Linked DNA regions of Homo sapiens: region 2 is linked to region 1. A link means that fine-mapping ties the variant in region 1 to the expression of a gene that starts in the linked region. Tissue or cell type: caudate. Region 1 holds a variant in brackets; the other region holds the start of a gene. All regions are shown on one strand. Distances are between the middles of the regions.

The links. PIP is the estimated chance that this variant, and not a neighbour inherited with it, causes the effect.
Region 2: ASTN1 starts here. The variant in region 1 is fine-mapped to the expression of ASTN1 in caudate (GTEx, PIP 0.99).

The regions. Positions count from the first base shown.
Region 1 is chr1:177,468,502-177,476,610 of GRCh38, forward strand. No RefSeq gene overlaps it. Among named protein-coding and RNA genes, the nearest start is that of LINC01645, 120 kb to the left of the region's middle. The variant T/C (reference allele first, on the strand shown) is at 4,354.
Region 2 is chr1:177,161,539-177,169,647 of GRCh38, forward strand. It overlaps ASTN1 (astrotactin 1), which reads right to left and starts at 3,174. Exons shown (of 23, transcript NM_004319.3): 1 at 2,856-3,174. The coding sequence starts at 3,138.

The sequences.
Region 1 (8,109 bases):
AAGAAGAATAAAAGATATTCTCATCGAGGAAGATTACTTCCTAGTGTTACAGAACAATGAAAAAAAGAATTATTATACAATACAGGTATAATAAAACAGAACGAACAAAAGTACAGAGGGAAGACCAAATACACTGGGGAGTCAGAGAAATCTTCATAGAGGTGATATTAGAGCTTACATTTGAAAGAAAATTAGTTGAAAAGAAGAGGAGGTACATTCTTGAAGTTAGTTCTTTTATATTATTTTGAATTGCATTCAGGGCCAAGCCTGAGAAGTGGGGAGATGCTAACTTCTTAGATTGTGCAGGATGTTCATGAGTAGCCAAAGGTTATCCCTGGTGCCATGATACTGGGTTGGCTCCAGATTTATTAATAAACCTAGGTTTTGGCCAAGACCTCAGGTTTTAAACACCCAGACTTTGTCTTCTCATCCACAAAAGGATGGTGGATTTTATTAATGAGCATTTTTTAAAGAATAGGAATATTTATTTTATAAAGAATAAGGTGGCCAGGTGCAGTGGCTCACGCCTGTAATCCTAGCACTTTGGGAGGCTGAGGCAGGCGGATTGCCTGAGCCCAGGATTTCAAGGCCAGCCTGGGCAACATGGTGAAACCCTGTCTCTACTAAAAAATACAAAAAATTAGCCAGACGCAGCGTGCACCTGTAGTCCCAGCTACTTAGGAGGCTGAGGCAGGAGAATTGCTTGAACCTGGGAGGCAGACATTGCAGTGAGGCGAGATTGTGCCACTGCACTCCAGTCTGGGTGACAGAGTGAGACTCTGTCTCAAAAAAAAAAAAAAAAGAAAGAATAGGGTATCTTGTTAGGTTAAGTAATTTAAAAAAATTGCAGTGATTATGGTTATGAATTTAAAAGCTAAAAAGGTCTTTGTCTGGAGTAGTCCCCAGGAGTTAAGCTTGCTAAGAAAAGAAATGGACTTTGCTTTAAAAATATGAATTATCTTAATACCATATCAGAAGCTGTAGAAGAAATAAAAAAAAAATCCTTGGGAACTCTTGGAGATCTGCCTAGACCCATCTTAATGTGAAAATAAAACCTTAGATGCCAATAGACAGATATAAAAAGGAAAAAGAGATGTTTCTAGATCAAATGGCTCAAAGAGAGGAGATTAGAAAAGAGGAGGAAATGTTTTGTTTTAGATTCAAAAGGGTTGCTGTAGTCCAAAGAAATCCCACAGAGCAAGAGAATAAGAGCTTAACCAATCTTAAAGGAAGCCTGGATCCAAGAAAACGCGCCTTTTAACGCTGAAGGTAATTTATGAAACAGCAACTGGAGAACCACTTCTTGAAAGTTGGAATAGCTATACAAAAGGTTTCAGGAGAAGAAATTAGACTACTTTAGGAAAGATCATCTTAAAATACTTGCAGCATTATTGGGGTAAATTTCAAGGAGACTAGTTATTGTAGGTGGAATTGTGTTGGTTATTGTTTAACAACCCACTCTCTGGAAAATAATAACCTTATTCGTAGCATTTGTCAATCTCTGAGATATGAATACTCCCTCCATGACTGATTTCAAGCATTCAATGTAAAGTCACTGAACACAAAGTTGGAAGAGATGCGCACAGCCAGCTCTATGAGCCAATGAGAGCCAGCTCCAGCACACAATGGTGCAGATGCAGCTATTGAAGTATGCCAAAATTCGTGAAACTTGACCTCTAAGAGAATATGAGGAATACAGAAAAAATACTAACAGGGACCTGGGGAAAACAATAAAAGATGAAATCCTGTTCTGGTTTAGATGTTGGTCTGCTGCAATACTACTATTAGGTTTACCAATCCAGGTTTGGAAGCCAAAGTGGATATGCTTGAACAATAGATTACCTTATTGACCAGAATTCACTGACTTATCATGTCTTACTGTAAAGCCGCCCACTATAAAATATATGTATATACATATCTCATAAATTTTTAAAAAGCCAATGTCTAGGGCTGGGCTGATATTCCGCACCAGTATATACCAACATGGCCATATGTCTTATTTACAGTCAGCATTTCTTTCTATTGGTTAGTGACTGTGCCATACTAATTGTTAAATACTTGAGTATCATCCCTGTCTAGGGCAGAGATCAAAAAGGAGAAAGGAAAGAGAGTGCTTAGTCCAGCTAATACCAGTAGCCTTCCATGTTGTGGTAGAGAATGAAAGGAACAAACTAAAGAAGAAAGTTAAACTGTCAGAATCTCAGCTGAGCTTTTCTTAAAAGGCAAAGAGAAACTAGCAAGGAAAATGAAGCATTAGAGACATATCCCATTACTGGAGAAAAATATTACAGTGAAAAAAAATGTTACTCAAGGCCTGTAACATCTAAAAGCAGAGGAAAAATAAGAACTGCACGGCAGATGTGCTTAGGGGCATAGACTTCAGAAATGTCAATGGCAACCTCTGTTTTAGAGCCTTCCAAGGGTAATGCCCTAGCTAAAAGGGATGTCAAGGCAAGGGTAAAAACCTTAAACGACAGAAGTCTTAGGATTAAACAATGCCATAGGAAAAGACATGGTGGGGTCACTGAGGCACAAGATTGGTAAATATCTGCACACAAAGCTCAAAGAGGCTATATCTCTAAACAGAGCCCACATCCAACTTGGTTCTCAGGCACCAGGTACAAGCACTCTAAATAAGCCAAGACAAAAAAGAGGTTTTGAATGTACAAGATGGGAAAACAAAACAAAACAAAAAGTCCCCAAACTGGTGCTTAGGCCTGCCACCACTGCATGTCTAAATTTAGAAGAGATATGTCTCTCTGAGAAAGGGGACTGAGTATAAATCTGATAAATCTATGGCCATTATAGACTCTTTCATGGGAGTTTTTCCCCAACTGGGTTTAAGTTTCCTAGGCCATGTCATAAATAGACTGGAATCCTGGCAAAGTTACAACTGTAACGTTCTCCTCTTTTTAGTCTACTTTCTTTCAAATATGACTAAGTCTCAACTGTCATCTTGGCAAAGAACAGAATGGTCTGTACAGTAAATATCTCCTGTTAGTGTTCATTTGAGGTGAGGACACATTCCTGGCTCCATTCTAAGTTGATTACTTAATCTAAGATGTCACCAATCAGCCTTTCTCATCTAGGGTCTCCTAAAAATTTAAGGCTTAATAAAGACCTAATGCCCTAAAACAGGAGTTGGTAAACTTTTAATGAAAGGTCCACACAAAATATATTTTAGGCATTGTGGGTAATACATGAAAACTGCCATAGGCAATACATAAACACGTGGGAGTATCTGTGTTGCAACAAAACTTTATTTACAAAAGTATACAATAGGCTGGATTTGGCCCCCAGTAGTAGTTTGTTGACCCTTGCACTAAAATATCCATATTATATAGTAACTTAGCTTCTCTTCCACACACCTAGAATGATACTAGATATTTGCAACCTTGAGAGGACTGAGAAAATTGTTCCTGAAGTTTTGTGTGTGTGTGTTTTGTTTCAGAAAGGAACCCTAGACTGGGAAAGGCTCTACTTAGTAATCTAGATACCTTGATTTAGATAATTCCAATTCAGACTCCAAAATGTCTCTCTGAGGCTGTTTGAGACTCCCCTCTGCAACCCCTGCAGCTCCTGCATATAAACTTGCTCCCTCTGTTTTTGCCTCACTTACCCCGGATATAGAGAGCTTAGTACCTCTTTCAAGTCCACCGAAGGAATCATGCCAAAATAAGGGCTGGTATCAACAGATGATGAAGTAGGAGTTTTATGTGTGACATCTCACACTAAAAAAAAAACTCTTAAATGTTCCCACTAGACATACCTATACCTCCAATTCACTTCTCAGTCATGCCACTACTGGAGTTTCTCTGCATCTAATTACACAACTGCCCTTTTTCCTGTCATTTACTCCTGGATCTTTCCTTGCCAACTTTCTTCTCTATTATGCAAAGCAATTCTGCTTGGTTCCAGGGCTGTATGTGAAGGCTTCAACTTCACATAACCAAATCCATACTAGACTTCAGAAAAACCAGGGCTTTACTGTTGTCCATATTAACCCTGCTTAAAAGCAGGCCCAGGTTTAGAGAGCAAAAAAAGACTTCTCATTTTATAGACATAGTTAATCAAGTGTTCTAAAATGGCATATGAGTGAAGGAGTGCATGTTTTTACCTATTTATGTTATCCTCAAGTCATGCTGTTTGACCTTGGGATCCAAGCTTTACATGTCACTTGCAGTTTAGGACATCAAGACTCTTGGACAAGTCTTAGCATGCTGGTGAAGGCCTGATGCACACAATGTATGACTAGGCTGCGGAAGTTGCTGGAGGGAGAAGGTGGGCAGGGAATGCAGATGTGATCTAGAAAGAAGAAAATGGATGCTGAGTGGGTAGCCAAGTACACAATGA[T/C]GTTAGAAAGCATGTGCAAACTGGGTGAGAACAAGCATGTAATTGGGTATGAATCATTAAGTTACATAATTATATATTATGTTTAGAGTGACCTGAAAGAGTGAATTAGAGTGGGAGAGAAATCTGGTTGCTGTATCTTTATGGGATACTTCCAAGGTAAATAAACCTTTTTTTTTTTGCCAGAGAGATTCTCAACTGGCTGAAGGATACACAAGATGTCTTATTTGTGTGTCACTTGTTTGTGTTACTAATGACTCCTGCTGACACCACCCTTGCTTCTTCAGGTCAGTGGGTCTTCGTGCCTTAGGTCTCTGCATTACCATCCCCTCTTCATTGGAGCTACTTTGCTGAGAGAGTGGGTTAGGGTATGAACCTTATGGTCTAGTAATAAAGTCCACACTTGCAGGCTTTGCAGACAGAATGGCAAATAATTTTCAATCTGCATACTAGTACTAATTAATCGATAGTGGCTACTTAGATGCTGTGTTGAGAGTGATTCTTAGGTCACATCTGGGGTAAGCAGGAAGAATTTTGTCTCATTTGATACTCTAAGTACTGTTGGCCTTCCCATACTAACAAGGATTTTTAGGGAAAAAAATTTTACAGAATGTCAAAAAAGCAATTGCTCTGGGGAAAGGCAAGCCTGGATTTGCCTCCTCTGCTATCTGTGTTTTGGGGAAAGACCATAGAAGCCTAAGTCCAGATACCTTTATTTGTGAAAAAGAGACAACAGCACCCACCCCACAGAGTTGCAAAAAATGATTTAGCAGATGTTAAAATCTAGCACATCCCTGGAACATGTTTACTAATTCAAAGTACATTATTTCTACTTCCTGACTAGAAAAAGACCATATTTTTTCATGCAAAAATCTCAGATATATCATTGGGTATAAAAATTATCTGATGGAAACATGACTGAAAGACTAGATGTTTTCAGTCTGGGACAGAATGTTAGATCAATATGACTGTCAACAAGTTTGTCTCTCTATGCGGGACACAAAATTGAGAAGCAGGGACTTGAAGTGAATAAAAATGTAATTTAATACACAATCAAATAAAAATTCTACAGCTTTAGAATCAGAGAATATTCTTGGAATGGACCCTTTTTCAGTACCATAAATTTAACCAACTGAATTCTTTAAGTATCTGCCTTGTCAACCCTTTGAAATGAAGGTTGATTAGGTTCAACGGGAAATCTACATTTCATCATGAAAATGGAACACAACGTGTCCTTGGCTAGTCTCCCATGGAGTAGCAATTTGGGGCACTGTGTGCAAAGCATGAAGCAAAAACACAGGTAGAAAATTTATTTCAGGCATGACAAACAGGAGGCATGCATATGCATAGCCCAAGAAGCATGAAAAGTCAGAGCTTCCATTCTCACTGCACAGGCCTCCGTAAAAGGAAAACACAAAGGGGCTTCTTCAGCCTTTTATTTTACAAACAGTAGTTTATGAGAATGGAGACATTACAAGAAAAGGAGACACTTAAGATTAAGTGAGTTGATGTGTTTAAATATTAGGAGGAACAGAAACTCAATTATCGAGGGGTAAATGCAGCAATAGCAAGTCTCGTCAAAGAAATCAAGCCCCATTGGGTGTTTCTCACATTCTTGCTTCTTTTGACAAGGTTTAATGCAGAACCCAAGAGAATTTGACTATCTAATAACCTGAGCAAATAAAGTGTAGAGGAAGAACAAGTGTGCACATTATGCATCTCAATTCTAAGACAACAGTGAATGGTCTACTAGATTTAGCAGGTAAATTAAGGAGTCTGTTAGCAATGAGGTGCAAGCTGGCACACCCTCAATTCTGGCTGTTACCAGCCAAGGCACAGACATAACTGATGTTTCTCCAATACGACCAAGATGTGTCACCTAATCCAGAGAGAACACATTATCTATAACAGGCTTAAAGTCAGTTTGGAGGCCAAAATGTTGCCAATGTTTTCAGATCAAGTAATAGGCCTCTGAAAAGCTGAGTAAGCTGTTTGGCTGATGGAACAGTTAAAATTGAAGGGACAGTTCAATGGACTGACACTGGTTAAGAGAATCATTTAGTCAAGTTCATGACATACTCTTCCTCAATCTTGTACCTTTAAATCAAGTTAACCCTCCCCTGGAGCAAGTGGCTGGTGGCCAGTTAACTTGAGAAGGATAGGCAGCCCATTCCCTGTAATTGTTCTGGCCCTGAACTCCCCAAGCAGGCCCACTGAGCCTTTGGAACAACAGAGCAAAGTGCAGCAAGCAGGAAATACAATTTGGTGAAGTCATGCCAATGAGTACCCAGAACGCATCTGGAACTATGCTTGGCCTTATGGATATGCTTGGTATTGTGGATACATACACTGATGAAACGTGACTCTTCCTGCAAAGAGCTCACCTTTGAGTGGGGAAAATAGGTGGTAAATGTTAGCCAATAATGCAAAATGGTAGAGTTGGATATAAATTGAAATGTGAAAGGACAGCTACTTTTGACTCAAAAACGTAAAGCAGAAGTCAGATAAAATGATAGAGAAGTAGTGATCCTTAAACAGCGATGAAGAGTTTTCCCTGTGAACAAAAGAGGAGAGCACATTTCAGGCAATGGAAACAAGAGCCAATGTGTGGAGGGATGATATATATGGCATGGCTAAGGAGTCACAATAGAGTTCAGGGTGGCTGGACCAGAGAAGCTGTGTTCTAACTCCGAGATTTTGAACCTTTGGGACAAGGAGGGGAGATCTTGATCTCTTCCATGGTGTCCTACAAAATGCCTGCACCTAGTGCCTCATCTAGCTGAGACTGTAGTCCTGGGAAGACAAAGTTACTAATGACAATATCCCATACCCTTTACTCCCTTCTCTGATAAGATTTAATATTTTTAGCAAATGTTTTCTTTCAGCAAATATTCATTGAGCATCTATTATCTGCTAGTACTATGAAAGGCACTGATATTTTAGAAGTATTGTCATTAAATGGAATTAATATAGGATAAAAGTAAAAGTCTGAAACCAGTCTGTCTGGGTTCAAAGTTTAGTTTCGACACTTAGCAGCTGTACAATTTTAGATAAGGGACTTCATTTTTAAAATACAGATAATACTAGTATTCCTCTATAGCATGGCTGAGGATTAAATGACAAAAATCATGTATAATACTTAGAACATCACCAGTTATAAAAAGTGCCCCGTAAGAACTGGTTGTAATCATTATCTTTGGGTGCTAGAATGAACAGTGCACAGAGTGAACTGTCAACATAACTATTAATTCTGGGAGGGAATCTTTTGTCAGGCATATGCATCCCTCCCTCACCTTTTCATCAGTGTTGCACTGCTCTGCAACAGAAGTAACATCCTTTCCTCATGGCTCCAGGATGTCTTCCCTGCGTAGTGGAAGAACTCATTTTGTTGGGTTATTTCACCTAGGGATTGTATTCATTCCTCACAGAGCATCAAGACCCCCAATATCTAAACGATCCTTCTCAACTTTAACCCACACTCATATTTTCACTGACAGGCAACAAATGCTGTTTGCAGCACTTGTGAAACCCATTTATTTTAACATGAAATAAGCTTGTTCCTGACAGATTGCAGCAAGAAAGGTAAGCATAATGGGACTGTTCAGAGATTGGTGGTGTCTGACATTAGTGGAATCATCCGGATTTCACATTTAGCAGATTCAACAAAAGAGAAGAAATCAAAAATCATGTCTGTTTGGCATGGGAAGTGTGGAGAAAAGACAGGAGCTTGGGAACACAGTGAGGAAGGAGTCAACAAGG
Region 2 (8,109 bases), 310 kb before region 1:
ACCTAATAGAGAAAGGGCAAAGAGCCTTCCAGGCAGAGTAGCTACATGTGCAAAGTCTTGAAACAGTCCAGAAGGCCATGGCAGGCTTGGAGGGATAAAGGGCTGGAGAAGTTGGCTGCAATCAGAATGAGAAGACCCTAGTTAGCCTCAGTGAAGTGACAGGACTTGATCCTAGAGGCAAAAGGAAGCCAAAGCTTGTTTTTCTTGTTGTTTGTAATTTTTTTTTTCACTCAAAGGAGTGACAGGATCTGATTTTAGCCTAAGCTTCTGGTCCATGATTACCATGGAATCTGCTCTTGTCATGCAAGCAAATCCTTCCACAGCATCCCTATACCCCTTAACAGCCATACCACACAATTAGGTAGGTACAGCTCTTACAGGTATCTTTGTGTTTCCAGTGACTAGAGACCACTTGAGGGCAAGAGACTTTTTTTTAACTTCTGTTTCCTAGTAATGCCTCTGAGTGCTGAGCAGGTACAACTCAATAAATTTCCAGAATTGACTGATTCAGATTCCTCCAGGAGATGGATTAAGTAAACAAGGTTCCAAAGATAGGAGTAGGGAAATCTCAAAACCAAAGTCACTACAGCCCTCACCATTGGCCAAGAGCTGCATGATCAAGACCACAAAAGTTAAATTCAAAACTACCTTTGAGTCTATCCTCCATAAATTTGGACTCCTCTTCCTTTCTGCCCAGATCTGTTTAACCACCCACCCAAACTGAAATTCATTCCTTCTTCCTTTGAGCATACTGAGTCAGAAAGAATAAGTACCAGCCCTTCTCTGGTTCTGAGCATACCCCACTGACTGGGAGAGTGGGAGATAATCGATGCATTTAAATAGTGCATCTGGCCCTGAAGTGAGAGAGTGTGTCTGTGTGCCTGTGTGTAAATGCCAAGTTGCACCAGATTACCATAGCAACCCCAACAGGACACTGCAGTGGGCAGCTTTGCACAGAGGTGCAGAAAACCCGTTCTTATAACATCTGGGCTTTCACTGTGCACATTGGTTCCTAGTAGGCACATCACAGCATTAGGCCCTGGTTTTGGGATTCTGCAAAAAAGAAATGAAATGTTGAATACCTGCTAGCCCTCCCTTTTTTTAAGCACCATGCTTGTACCTCTTCATGCACAGTAAACACTACAAGCAGAGTGCAAAACAGCCTCTTTAGAAACACATAATTCCCTCTACTCACTTTTATATACTATGATGAACAGATTGTACTTTGCATATCAGCATGACTTCAACGTGAACTTTCCATCCTCCAAATAACCCAGTAATTGTACATTTTGATGAGCGGCATATCCACAATGCTCCCATTTCCAGCTAGTCCCCAGTTTTTATTATGTTATTGGTATTTTTGAAAGCAAAAATAAATAATCCTATCAAGAGCATAGGTTGGGTTTAATGGGTTCAACTGAGCTGCACTCCGGGAACTATAAAGCAACTTTTCAAAGGGCCAGGCAATTTTTGAAATTGCTTTTCCCTAAGGGTTGGGGAGTAGGGGTTTATTCACTCACTTCCTAGTGTTTTCAGTGTGAAGACATCTCCTATGAAGGAAGAGCAAGAGGGATGTGTTAGAATTCCACATGTGGCTCTAGCCTACATGTGGCCATCAGGAAACCATGTTTCTGCAAATGGAACTGTAGTTGGTAGGGTATCAAGTAAATGGAACAGCCTCCTAGACATTTTCTTTTTTTCTCTACTTGGATCTAGAGACTGAAGTGTGGTTTTCTTTGAATTTCTCCTGGGCAAAATAAGAATAATTGGCAACATCACTAAAGAAATGGATTGCATGGTAGGCATGCACAGCAAGGTGAGAGCTCCATCTACACATGGAGAAGTGAGGGGAATTTGGCAAAGTAACATGAACTTGTGGTGCTTTGCAAGATACTAGAGCAGGACCACAAAACCTTTGCAGCTTAGTAGTGGAAAACAGGGATGATTTGAAGTAATGTATGGGTTCCAGTACCTGAAGTGACAGGAGTTCCACTACCTGAAGGTGACCTAAGAAAATTACAGTGGGAGTACCAAAAAGAGAGAGATGTAAACAAACAAAGGAAGGAAGAGCCCCTTGCCTAGAAAGGTCATTCTGTGTGCAGGAATGCCTACGCCTATCTAAGGTGGCCCTGGGAACAAAGAAGAGACCAATACTAACAGACTACAGTTGTATAATATCTTTAACCAACTGTGACGTGACATGGATGTGTGGATGTGGTTGAATTAGGGGGTTGTGACATCTAAGCATGGAGGTAGGACTTCCCAGAATGAACAGCTGGGGGATAAGAAACTTGAGTGTTTGGAAGGGAGGGTGTCAGTAGCCTGGTGACAGATAAAGGGCTCTCCATGAATGAAGACTAGAATCTGGCTTGCACATAGCTGGCAAGGTGATGACAGGATACCTGTTTCTAAAGCCCCCAGGAAGTGCTGTAGGTGGGTGTGGGTATCCAGAGTGAGTGAAGCAAAGAGCTGAGCATGTGGCTAGGGAGTGGGGAGAAGGGATTATGGGAGTTGAACTGGTAGCAGACAAAAAGTGCTGTGTGGATGTGCTCCTGAATCAAAGCTGGGAGGTCAAGGCTGGGAGAGGTTTCAGAGAGACTCATGCAACCTGTTTCTTTGAGGCAGGGCAGCTGAGAGGAGGCTCAGCATCCAGGTCGGATTTGGGGAGAAGTCAGGTGCACAGAGGCGCTAGTATGCAAGTGGGTGTGGAGAATGGTCCGGGAGTGGGGCGGATCCGGGAGGTAGGAGTGGGGGAGGGGAGGTCGTCGGCGAGTGGGTGTGTAGAGCGAGCTGGAGTGGGGGGTGGGGGCGCCGGTCCAGCGCCTCCGGCCGCCTCGACCTCCCCCGGGACTCACCCAGCACGAAGTAGGGCAGCTCCGTGTTCTCCAGGTCGTCCACCACGACCATTTCTCCCGGGAAGTCGTTGCGCACCGAGAAGAGGAGCTTGGGCTCCGAGGCCGAGGGGCTGTGCATGATGCTCAGGTCGTTCTCGCGCAGGAAGGGCAGTGCCGACACCGTGATGCTTTTGAGCTTGCACTCCAGCTCCTTGGATGGATCCACGTCGCCGGCGGCCGTGGCCAGCACCGCCGCCGGCCCCCAGCAGCAGGCGAGCAGGGCGCAGAGCCCGGCTAAAGCCATCTTGAGCCCCGGCCGCCTTCCTCCTAGCGCTGCGATGGTGGGGGAGGAAGCGAGCGGGGAGGGAGCGAGGGAGCGAGCGCGGGAGGCGGGGGAGGTTAGGGAGGGGATGGAGAGCCGGGAGAGCCCTGGACCCCGGAATGAGATGCCGCTTGCAGAGTCCTGGGTTTAAGCTCTGATGTCTGGAGAGCCCCGGATTCTTTGTTTCCCGGAGCTGCTTATCTGGAGAAGGGAAAGCGGGGGAGGGGGGAGAGGAGAAAAAGGGAAGGAAGGACGTCGAAAGGAAAGAGGAAGGGAGCTGAGGATTCTAGGGAATCAGGTCAGCCCCCAGCTGGCTGCCGGTGCTCCTGCCTCTCTCCTCCGTTGCATCCTCCAACACGAGCAAGGCTCTTGGCTATGAACTACCTGCACGGCATTTTTAATACATTGATCTTTGCAATGTAAAATCTTCCCTCTCGCATCATCATCCAGAAGGCTTGAGAGAGGCACACACAGACATACACCTTAAAGGGCGCTTCTGCAAAGCTGCGCGGTGAGGGGAGATGAAAATTCCCCCAGTGGTTTTGTGGATGTATTATAGCTTGTCCGAATCTTGCTTCCACCCCGCCCCGTCCCCCACTAGTTGGATTTGTACATAGGATAAACGGGAGCTGGGAATGCACATGTGCATATTTTTACTTAGCACTAACTTTGCAAAATATTTAAAGAAAATATTTGTTATACTGGTTTAGATGGATGGATAGATATGCACAACAGAGTAAGGTGCACAGTTAAGCAGGAGATCGAAACTTTTACTCGCAACTTCTCTCTGCTTCATTTCATTTCTATCACAAATTTTATCTGTAGTAACCAATAAAAAGATGATTTGGGGAATATTATAGCTGATAGAAAAAAAGTAGGGTTAGCTCAAATAAATCTTGAAACTTTAATTTTAGACAATCTAGTAAATAGGACAAAGCTGGAAAGAAATTGTGAGAAAAACCAAAGTTCCTAAGCATTCTTAACAGATGGAAAAGTAATAAAAGAATATCCTTGGGTATGAGCTAAGTCAATCCCAATCCAGTCAAGAGTACAACAGGGAAGATGTTCAGCACCCTGCGTAAGTATTCTGAAGAATAACACCACCACCACCACCACCAAAACCCATGTAAGATCTGTTCCCAGTAGTGCTCAACAATGTTGCCTTTTAAAAATGATGACAATATGCAATAAACAGTGGTAGAAAAGTGACATTGTGTATTCTGAAATCTGACATTTAACTGAACTTTCTCTCACATGATAACCAATAACTTATTTCAAAAGTGTGTCCCTCCATTGTTATTGGGTCAATGCTAACTTCAATACTAGGTGCTGTGAAGACTGTGTTATTTGTAGTTCTCACTCTAGAAATTTAATGCACTACTGTTCTAAAAGAGGACCCCTACTTAAGAAACAATTACATTTTCATTCTACCTGGTGTCAGTTTATTGGCATATGTGAAAATATGTTCTTTAAAAGACAAAAAAGCTTTTGCCATATATTTTACAAAGTTTATCTAATTGAATAGAGAAAATAAGCCATATTTAAGGTAATGTTTAAGTAGTGAAAGATCATTTACCACATATGCAAAGAAAAGAAGAACAAAGACACTTTATTAGTTGAGTTTTTATATGTAACTTATCTGGGAATTAACCCCAAGTTATCTTACCATGCAGCATTGCAAACTACTGTAAACTACTGTAAAAAAGATGTACCAGCTAACGACTTTTGAAAACTCATCCTGATCGTCATTGCTCCCCTAAGAGATACTGAGTGAGACAAAAACCCCATGATATCTCTTTCATTCTGTTATCCCTAGCATAAACAAAAATCTAGTATTAAACTTACTTATGCAAGGTTATTTGCCATTGAATAATTATAGTGGATGTCAGGAACACACCCTTGATACTAGAATGTGAGAAATGGCATGTAAGTACCTGATCATGTATTCATCCAATCTCTCACTTAACAGATAAGGAAATTGAGACCCATTAAAGAGTGATCTATCTTCTATGGAGCTAAGACCATGAACAAGATTTCTTTGCCCACTGCTCTTTCCACTATATGGTTATGGTACACTAGGGTGCACCCATGGATAATCACTGGGCTTTATGGACCACAGTAATTAATTCAGCAAATGTTTGTGTACCTACTGTATCATAAGCATTAGGCTAAGCACAGCCAGAAAAATACTACTCCTGCTTTTGAGTAGCATATAATCTACTGTCACTTTGAAATCTTTCTTTCTAATTTTCTGAAGATTCTTGAGTCATGTTAGAAAGCCCAAGTAAACCATTTAGGGTTGATTTTCCAATAAGTCAATATCTAGTCTTCTTAAAATGTATATTGAGTTGGGCATAGTTGGTAGTTGGTATCTCAAGTCTTTCTAGACCTCTCTAAACAAAACCAAACAAAAGAAACAGTAGAATTTTTTAAAAGAGAATATATTATTCCAGAGTACTTGATTCCTGTAAAAATGGAAATAATGTCACATGGCCCTTTCTTAGGGAATTAAATACCTAGAGATGTGGGTAAAGGTTGAAGTACATGGAAACCAGGCCATCTCTAATGCATGATGTTTTACATTTAGAGGAGATGGGGGAAAATGTTATGCATCTCAATCATCACCTTTGTGTAGAGGCATAATGATATAGTGAAATAATAGAACTGGATTCAAGACTTAACTTCATAATATTCTTATTTGGAGATAAGCTTGGACCATTCTTGTCTTTAGTTCCCCATCAACAAAAGGGGCCAATCATCTCCGCTCACCCCTGCTGGTCACAGAAAATGTTTCTGACTTTCATCACCAAAGAGTAATGTTACTTGCTCTTGAATTTTATAAATATAGAATCTTAGAGTATATGCTTTTTTGTGTCTTAATATTTTCACTCATCATTATGTCTGTGAGATTTATCCATGTAGTTCAATATTGTATTGCTGTGTACTAGTCCATTACATGACTACATGGCATTTATTCATTCTCAGAAAATTTCTATTCTTTAAAACACTGTAAAACAGCAAGCGCTGTTATCTCCAATCTTCACTTTTCTCCTGAGATACACCTTCCTGTATTTAAGCACCAATGGCCTCTTTCCTTGACTATTAAAATAGATTTTGATTCCTTTTCCTCCTAGCAACGCATTCTGTACACAACTACCAGGTTGATCTTCATGAAATCTAACTTTCATTATGTCATTCTAGTTTTTCTTTTTCTACATGATAAAGCTGAAAACCCATGGTTTAGAAATTTTAAAACTCTTCTAATCTCACACTGTTTTTTAGATAGTTTGCTCACTGCACTATATCTCTATCCTCCCACCACACATGTGCACACAGACACACACATCTCTCAATCAAATTAAAATCTATTTCCTATTTTCACTCCTCCCATAACATTCTGTCCACCTGAAGTGCAACACTCTTTATTCTTCAGATTGTCCCATCTCTCCAAGCTAATCTGCAGCTGCACCTATGCAGTGAGAACTTCCATCACTTCCCTTCTTTTAGCTCCATTCCCTGGGCATTTATTTACATCTCCCCCAACATCTACACATATACATACACATACACTCAGGAAAGCAAGAGCTATTTCCTAATACAAAGTCTTAAATTCAATATTCTTATTTGCAAAACAGGAATAATACATAGTTTTGGGGGTGGTTGTGAGGAGGAAATGAGATTATGTATGTAAACAATGTGACACATTTTAGGCATTTAGTTGGCACTCAGTAGCGATAGCCTTTGCCACTATCACCTTATTCAATTATTTTGGCAAGATAATAGGCTTCAGAGTCATCTTCATGAGATTTTCTCCAGTGTAGTAGTCAAAGCAAATTAAGTAATGTATAGTCCTTGGTGTTTTCCCAGAGGAAATGATTGCATACATCCACCAAAAGACAAGCACAAAAACATTTATAACAAGTTTACTTATAATAGCCAAAAAACCCCAGAAACATCCCAAATATCTATCAAGAACAGAATGAATAAATGCCATGTAGTCATGTAATAGAGTGGTGCACCGCAATAAAACATACAACTACATGGATAAATCTCAGAGACAAAATGATGAGTGAAAGGATCAAGACACAAAAGAGTGTATACTCTAAGATCCTATATTTACAAAGTTCAAGAGCAAGTAACATTAATCTTTGGTGATGGAAGTCAGAATATAATTATCTCTGGGGAGTGGAGGGTTTTGACTGAGAACGTTCACGAACATGCTTCCTGCAGTGCTGGAAATAAAGTGAGTAATGGTTACATTGATGCATATATAGGCAAGAATTAAACTATACACTTGTGGCAATTCTTAATGTATATTCTGCCTCTTTAAAATTTTTTACACGGCTTCAGACTTTATAGGAGAAGAAAGTACAAGCAAGTTTTCTTTTTCAAGTTGTCTTCTTATCTGCCATCACCTCTTTCCTCTCTCTTTTACAGATTTTGGAAATTTTAACTTTCTTTCCATTGAAATTAGCAATCCTTTGTTCAACCTCTCCCTCTATTTACCCACTCCCTTATGCTATTTTAACATTTCAGTATGTTGTCACTTGGGACAAGTTCAGTGGGTCTCTGCCTCTAGAAATCACAAAAGTAAATAACTCAGCAGTTGGGTAGCAATAGATTTAGGCTCTCAGTGGTTCTCTTGGTTATTTTATTCTAGAAAGAGAGCTCAGGACCCTGTGGGACCACCATTCTCTGACATGTTTTGTAGCTTAGGCAAACAGATACTTGCAGTATGCAGAAGGAAGTTCAACGTTGTATAAGATACAGAGAAGAAAATATAGGTGAAAGTGATAGATGTGTGAGTCTGAGGGGATGAATGAAGAAAATTTCTAATTTTTCTTTATTCATTCAGAACTTACGGCTACTTGATGCAGTTTAGCTAATCTCCATGTGTACTTCTTACACATTCATTAAATCTCTACATACTTTTTTTTTCTAGTTCTTTACAAA